Homo sapiens: one gene and its partner. The protein of the gene in region 2 interacts with the protein of the main gene of each other region in a pairwise test. Each region holds a gene or a part of one and is shown on either strand. Other genes may lie near its edges.

What was found.
Region 1: the proteins of ITIH5 (region 2) and PPM1D interact in a two-hybrid assay, tested with the Homo sapiens proteins (one large-scale study listed by BioGRID and IntAct).

The regions. Positions count from the first base shown.
Region 1 is NC_000017.11:60,602,903-60,606,934, forward strand, and holds part of PPM1D (protein phosphatase 1D), read left to right. Parts: intron 1-4,032. UniProt on the Homo sapiens protein: Involved in the negative regulation of p53 expression. Required for the relief of p53-dependent checkpoint mediated cell cycle arrest.
Region 2 is NC_000010.11:7,660,467-7,663,966, reverse strand, and holds part of ITIH5 (inter-alpha-trypsin inhibitor heavy chain H5 isoform 1 precursor), read left to right. Parts: intron 1-3,500. UniProt on the Homo sapiens protein: May act as a tumor suppressor.

The DNA of each region.
Region 1 (4,032 bases), on a different chromosome or scaffold from region 2:
TGTAGTTTGCAATCTGCAGGCCAACCCCTTTCCTGTACATATTCAGCCTCTCCAGTAAATTATATTTGTTACACGAATTTCCATTACATTAGTCTCTACTCACCTTTTTTCAGGACACATGGAAATACTCCATTTCCATTTTCTTGGATTCTGCCTCTCTCACCCTGCCCCCCCAACAAGGAAAACTCAAACAAAAATATATCCATCATGTAGATTCCCAGTCAGTATGTTTTCTTCTGTGAAGACTACTTTCTTTTGGAATTGAGCACCCTTTTTTCTACTTTTGTAGTGCTCATTGGATTGTAGTAATAGTTCTCAAACTTTTTGCTCTCAGAACCCTTTATATGCTTATTGAGGACCCCAGAGAGTTTTTATGTGGGCTACATCTTCCAGTATTTACTATATGAGAAATTTAAACTTAGGCAATTTAAAAATATTTCTTTAAAAACAAACTTATATGTTTATATATATATTTTAAAGAAAAAACACTTTTTTCCCCAAATAAGAAATAGTGGTGGGAGGAGTGGGGTTGTTTTACATTTTGCAAACCTCTTTCAATGTCTGGCTTAATAGAGGACAGCTGAATGGCCGGGCGCACGCCTGTAATCCCAGCACTTTGGGACACAAAGGCAGGCGAATCACCTGAGGTCAGGAGTTTGAGACCAGCCTGGCCAACATGGTGAAACCTTGTCTCTACTAAAAATACAGAAATTAGCCGGGTGTGGTGGTGCATGCCTGTGATCCTAGTTACTCAGAAGGCTTAGGCAGAGAGAATTGCTTGAACCCGCGAGGCGGAGGTTGCAGTGAGCTGGGATTGGGCCACTGCACTCCAGCCTGGGCAACAGAGTGAGACTCCGTCTCAAAAAAAAAAAAGACAGCTGAATTATCATATCCACTTCTGCACTCAATCTCTTGCGCTATTTGGTTGAAGTATCTAAAGAAATAGCAGCCCCACATGCATATGTAGTAGGAAAAAGGAGAAATATTTTATTAGTCTTTTCAGATAATTGTGGATATTCTGCACTAAAATGGTAGCTATTTTCCCCCCCAGAGAAAGGTGGAAGAAAAGTAGTTTCTTAAAGTTTGCTGAATTGGAATTTGAAACCTTAGTAATGAATTTCATACTTAATACGTTAAGATCCATTGGTCTATTTTGTACTTTGAACGAATCTCATCCATGTGTGATTTTTGTGACATAGTGCATTAGTTATTTGGAAAATAATGGTTCACTCAGTTAAGAACGTCCTCTGAATAGCAACACATTTCATTATACAATATCAAAGAAAATCATGTTTGTTAATATCACTGATCTCATCAGAAAACTCTTTAAATATTGGGAAGCTATCTAGTTCACTGTTGTGGATACACATTATCCAAAATGTATTTTTCAAGCAACAATTAGAAATGTATCATTGAGAACAAATACTGTCAGTTTTTCTTGAAGCGAAAAGCTCACTTTGTTCATGTTGAAGATGTACACCAAATGCCCAAGTCTTATTAACACAGTTTATCAGTCTCTCAAGTAAAGATGATGGTCCATGAAAAATGTGGCTAGTTCATTACATGACTCAGACAATCACAGGTGCTTTTCCTGTAGTATGTAACAAAAGCCTGTTTATGTAGTCTCCTTTTTGTCATATAGAATATTAAAAAGATATGCAGCCTGGGCAACATGGCAAGACCCTGTTGCTATACAAAATAAAAAATTAGCTTGGCATGGTAGCATGTGCGTGTAGTCTCTGCTACTCCAGAGGCTGAGATGGAGGGATTGCTTGAGCCTGGGAGGTGGGGTTACAGTGAACCATGATGGAGCCTGTGCACTCAGCCTGGGCAACAGAAGAAAAAAGTAGGTATTCATGGGTTGGGATTTAATACAATTAATTTTTATTGTGTCATCAAGGATATTCTTTTTTTAATTTTAGTTTTTGTTTTTTGAGACGGAGTCTCACTGTATTGCCCAGGCTGGAGTGCTGTGGCACAATTTCAGCTCACTGCAACCTCCTCCTCTCAGGTTCAAGCGATTCTCGTGCCTCAGCCTTCTGAGTAGCTGGGACTACAGGCATGTGCCATCATACCCAGCTAATTTTTGTATTTTTTTTAGCAGAGATGGGGTTTCGCCATGTTGGCCAGGCTGGTCTTGAACTCTTGACCTCAAGTGATCCATCTGCCTCGGCCTCCCACAGGCATGAGCCACCACTCCTGGCCAGGAATATTCTTAAGTGAAACTAGCTTGCTTTTTTTGGACTGTAATTAGGTAGCTGTGAAGAATGCAGTGACTAATGGCTCAATCTGGTGCCACTGCCTTGACTCCTGCCAAGGTACCAGTAGTTTACCAGCCATTGCTTTCTACCATCAGTACAAATGTCAGCACAGTGAAAAGGGCAAATAAACTCTTAGAATTATTATGAAAATAGTTTTGGCCTTGTAGAATCCCTATAAAGATTACACAGACCACTGGGAGATGCTAGTCTGCTATAGTATCTGCCTGTCAGCTAAATCTTGAGGTCTTTGGGGCCAGAGATACTGCCTTACTCATCTTTAATTGTTTTAGGATTGGCCACATAATACCTTGCCCAAAGTAGCTGCTCAACAACTAGTTGAGTTTAGTTGAATTTCTGTTGAGTGTAAGTAAATAAATGGACTTTCTTCCATTTTTTAATTAAAATTTCTCCTTTTAAAAAATTGTGCTAAAATACAGATAACATAAAGTTTATACCAGGCCAGGCGTGGTGGCTCACGCCTGTAATCCCAGCAATTTGGGAGGCCAAGGCGGGCGGATCACCCAAGGTCAGGAGTTTGAGATCAGCCTGGCCAACATGGTGAAACTCAGTCTCTATTAAAAATACAAAAAAATTAGCCGCACGTGGTGGTGTGTACCTGTAATCCCAGCTACTGGGGAGGCTGAGGTGGGAGAATTGCTTGAACCTGGGAGGCAGAGGTTGCAGTGAGCTGAGATCACGCCATTGCACTCCAGCCTGGGAGAAGACGCGAGACTCTGTCTCATAAATAAATAAATAAAATTTATACCATTTTAGCCATTTTTAGGTATATAATTTAGTGGCGTTAAGTGTATTCATAATGTTGTACAACCATCACCACTATCAGTTTTCAAAACTTCATCAGCCCAAATAGAAACTCTGTGTCCATTAAATAATATCTCATTGTTTCCCCCTTTCCCATCTCTGGTAACCTCCCCATTCTACTTTGTACTGCTATGAATTTGACTATTCCAGTACTCCATTTAAGTAGAAAAGTGTTCTTTTGTGTCTGACTTATTTTACTTAGCATGTCTTTAGAGTTCATTCATATTGTACCATGAGTCAGAATTTCTGCTGAATAATATCCCATCATATAGATGTATGCATGCCACATTGTGTTTATCCAGTTTTCTGTTGATGGACATTTGGGTTGTTTCCACTTTTTGGCTATTGTGACTAGTACTGCTGTGAACATTGGTGTACAAGCATTTGTTTGCATCCCAGTTTTTCAATTCTTTTGGGTATGAACCTATAAGTGGAATTGCTGGATCATATGGTAATTCTATGTTTAACATTTTAAGGACTTGCCAAACTGTTTACACAGCAGCTGTACCATTTTACATTCCTACCAGCAAGGTATGAAGGCTTCAATTTCCCCATATTCTAACGCTTGTTAACTTTTGTATTAAAAAAAAAAATCCTGATGAATGTGGACTGTCTTACATTTTAAAATTATAGCTTTTCTATGTTACTGAGCCCTTCTTGAATTATTTGGTGTTAAGCTTGACCTCTCTTGTCTTTCTAATGATGTGTACGCCTCCCAAATTTACAAAGGAAAATTTTTTAAATGGCTTATTTTTGTCTTGAGGTAGGGAGATTTGGTAAATACAGTATGGAATGAAAGAGTATATAAATATATTCTTTTTTTGTGTGTGTGACAGGGTCTTGCTCTGTTGTCCAGGCTGGAGTGTAATGGCATGATCAAAGGTCCCTGCAGCCTTGACTTCCTTGGCTCAAGGGATCCTCCTGCCTCAGCCTCTGAAGTAGCTGAGAC
Region 2 (3,500 bases):
TATTATCAAAGCAGTTTTAGATTGACAAAATAGTAAAAGCCACCAGTTATTGAGTATCTGTAATGTCCCAATGTCTCAGGGAGTTTGCTAGGAGCTTTATGTGAAAATAATAAGAGGCAATAATGTATTCTGGTTGAGTACTCCATGTGGTGCCGGACTGCCTGGGCTCATATCTGGACCCCATCACTTACTGCCTGTGTGTACCTGGGCAAGTCACTTAACCTCTCTGGGTCTCAGTTTCATCATCTGCAATATAGAGTTGTTAATAATTCCTACTACATAGGCAGGGGTGGATCTAGGCTTTGGGAGGAGAGTAAAGTTTATACAATTTGCAGGACCCTCTTGAAGGAAAAAAGTATCAAATTATAACTACAAAATTAGGTGCTAAAATGACTATTTATTTAGAAAGATAAAGAAAGCACAACAAATTACACATTTTGACAATCTGACAGGCACCACAAACATCACGCATTTTTAGGGGCTTGCACAAGTGAGGTGTCCTGGAGCTTATGTTTTATTAGCATGTAAATAATAATTTAATTTTTATAAAAATAACAGTTCTGCTTTTATGGTTGTTCGAGGATTAAATGAGTTAATTCAGGCAAAGCATTTGCATATAGTAAACACTTAGGTAATATTAGCTGCTTTTACTATTTATGCACAGCCTAGTTAAGTCTCTGACTACCGCTGTAATGTCTCAATGTACTTATTTGACAAAGGACAACCAGGAAGTCCTTTCTGAGAAGTGACAGCTGCAACAACCTACTATGTGCAAAGCCTGGATTGGAGTGTAGGTGTGCCGAACACCAAAGCTGGGGCTCTCAGCAAATCCTTCAAACAGCAAGCCATGTTCACTTTTATAATTTAGTTGAATTTATTTAAATGTGATTTGTATTTGTAGCTCATGGCACATAGGTGATGTGCAATATATGCTAGTCATAATTCAAACATCTATTGTGGTGATACATTTCTAATTCCCTGAATTGGACATTTCCAGATTTTTAATTTCTTACAAATTCTCACTGAGAAGCAAATTTTTGCATTTGGGGGGGAAAAAAACAACAAAAATCAAGATAGCTATTTTTTTTCAACTCTTTAAAAAACAAAGCCAGTGAAAGATTTTGTAAGCTTCTGGCCATTCAATAACGTCTCCCTTATGTGCAGGGCTGGATTGTTGAAATGAGTTTGTAGGGCAGAGTGCGGAAGGAGTATGCTGTGGGAGAAATTCCAGGGATTTGGTCACTCCCAAAGCAGCCATATGCCATTTCTTGAGGGTGGAAAGGAAGGGTGGGGAAGTCCTGAGAACTGGGTGATGAGCTGTGTGTGACTTGGTGTTCCTAACTAGCACTTTCCCCAAGTCCTTGGATGCTCACATATAAGGCGATCTTGCTTATCATGTCATCAGCGTAGCTGCTGGGAATGCCAGCCGGGTGTTTCTGGATCTGAGGAGCAGTGGAGTAGGTCGATTTAGGAAGATGGGGGACAGAGGATGAAGACCTGAGCTTTTTTTAGGAGGAGGGTTCTGAACCACTCATTATTTTCCCACAAGAAACATCCAGTTCCCTGATTTTTCTTTTCTTTTCTCTGTCTGTCTCTCTCTCTTTTTTTTTTTGAGACAGTCTCACTCTGTTGCCCAGGCTGGAGCGCAGTGGCATGATCTTGGCTCACTGCAACCTCCGCCTCCCGGATTCAAGCAATTCTCCTGCCTCAGCCTCCCAAGTAGCTGGGACTACAGGCACACACCACCACACTTGGATAATTTTTGTATTTTTGTAGAGACGGGGCTTTACCGTGTTGGCCAGGCTGGTCTCGAACTCCTGATCTCAGATGATCGGCCTGCCTTGACCTCCCAAAGTGCTGAGATTACAGGCTTGAGCCACCGCACCCCACCCCTGATATTTTATAGGTAAATAAAATAAACAGGGTGACTTGCCTAATGGCAGTTGCTTTTAAAAAATTTTAATCGGCCAGGCACAGTGGTTCACACCTGTAATCCCAGCAGTTTGGGAGGCTGAGGTGGGCAGATAGCTTGAGCCCAGGAGTTCAAGACCAGCCTGGACAACATGGTTGAAACCCCATGTCTACTAAAAGTACAAAAATTAGCTGGGCATGGTGGCATGCACCTGTAGTCCCAGGTACTTGGGAGGCTGAGGTGGGAGGATCACCTGAGCCCAGGTAGTCAAGGCTGCAGTGAGCTGTAATCATGCCACTGCACTCCAGCCTGGGTGGTATGAGTTGAGACTCTGCCTCAAAAAAACTTAAAAAACAATCTTTCTGGAAATTGTTTGGAATTTTAGCTGTAATATCAGGTTTCTTCTTCCATTACCAAGGTGATAGGCATCCCAAATTGCAAATGATTAATAGCTAAACAAACTTGCAGCAACATTACTTTCAAGGAAGAAAAATTTGGGGTGAGTGATATAGAATTACCCAAATGGGAATATTCTCAGACTAACCGTTCTCAGCCCACATGATAAATGGCATCTCATGTGACTTTCCAACATCTAGCCCTTTGTTCTGTTCCAGGTCCTATAGCAGATCTCTAAGGTAATTGGCCCTTAAGTTTCTCGGTTTGGGTTTCAGCATTTCAGAATGCCCTTAGAAGAATGGGGCCAGGTGGTAGATAAATTCCTTGTACAGATCCCTCTAGGAACGCATGACTTCAGTCAGTTGAAGGTGTTTGGCTGAAGCTGGCCTTGGTGTAATGGCTCTTGGATCTGTTATGGCAGCAGTCCCCAACCTTTCTAGCACCAGGGACTGGTTTTGTGGAAGACAAGTTTTCCACGGAATGGGGGTGGGAGGGATGGTTTTAGGATGAAATTGTTCCACCTAAAATCACCAGGCATTAGTAAGAATCTCGTAAGGAGAACACAACCTAGATCCCTTGCATGCACAGTTCACAATAGGGTTTGCCTCCTATGAGAATCTAGTGCCTGGAGCATTAGGAGGCAGAGCTCAGCCGGTAATGCGGGCTCGCCCACTGCTCACCTGCTGTGTGGCCCGATTCCTAATGGGCCACCAACCTGTACCTGTCCACGCCCCGGCGATGGAGACACCTGTGTTATGGGACCTAGAGTCACGGATACAATGTTATAGCTCAAAAGAAGAATGGAGGATGCAAACCTCGCCTTTACATCTGTCTTTAAGTCAACCGGGTCATTACAGCATCCATACCAAAGGTGGAGTGTCTGTGCTCAAGAATTAGGCTTTGTTTCTCTCCTCCTGCCTCCCATTCTTTCCCATGGATGGACTCTCGAGATGACTCAAGTACCTATCTCTCTTCCTCCCTCAGTCATGATCTGATGCTCCGGTGGATCCTGGGAAGAAAAACACAACCCCTATCAGTCAAATTATAAACATTTAAGCGGCACTGGCAGGTTTTTTTTCCCACCTATAGTTGCACTAATTGATAACGGGGTAGGTTTGGAGATTCCACACTCCACAGCTCTGATGATGTTACTGACACATGCTCGTCCTAAGGAAGCCTTTACCTCACCTTC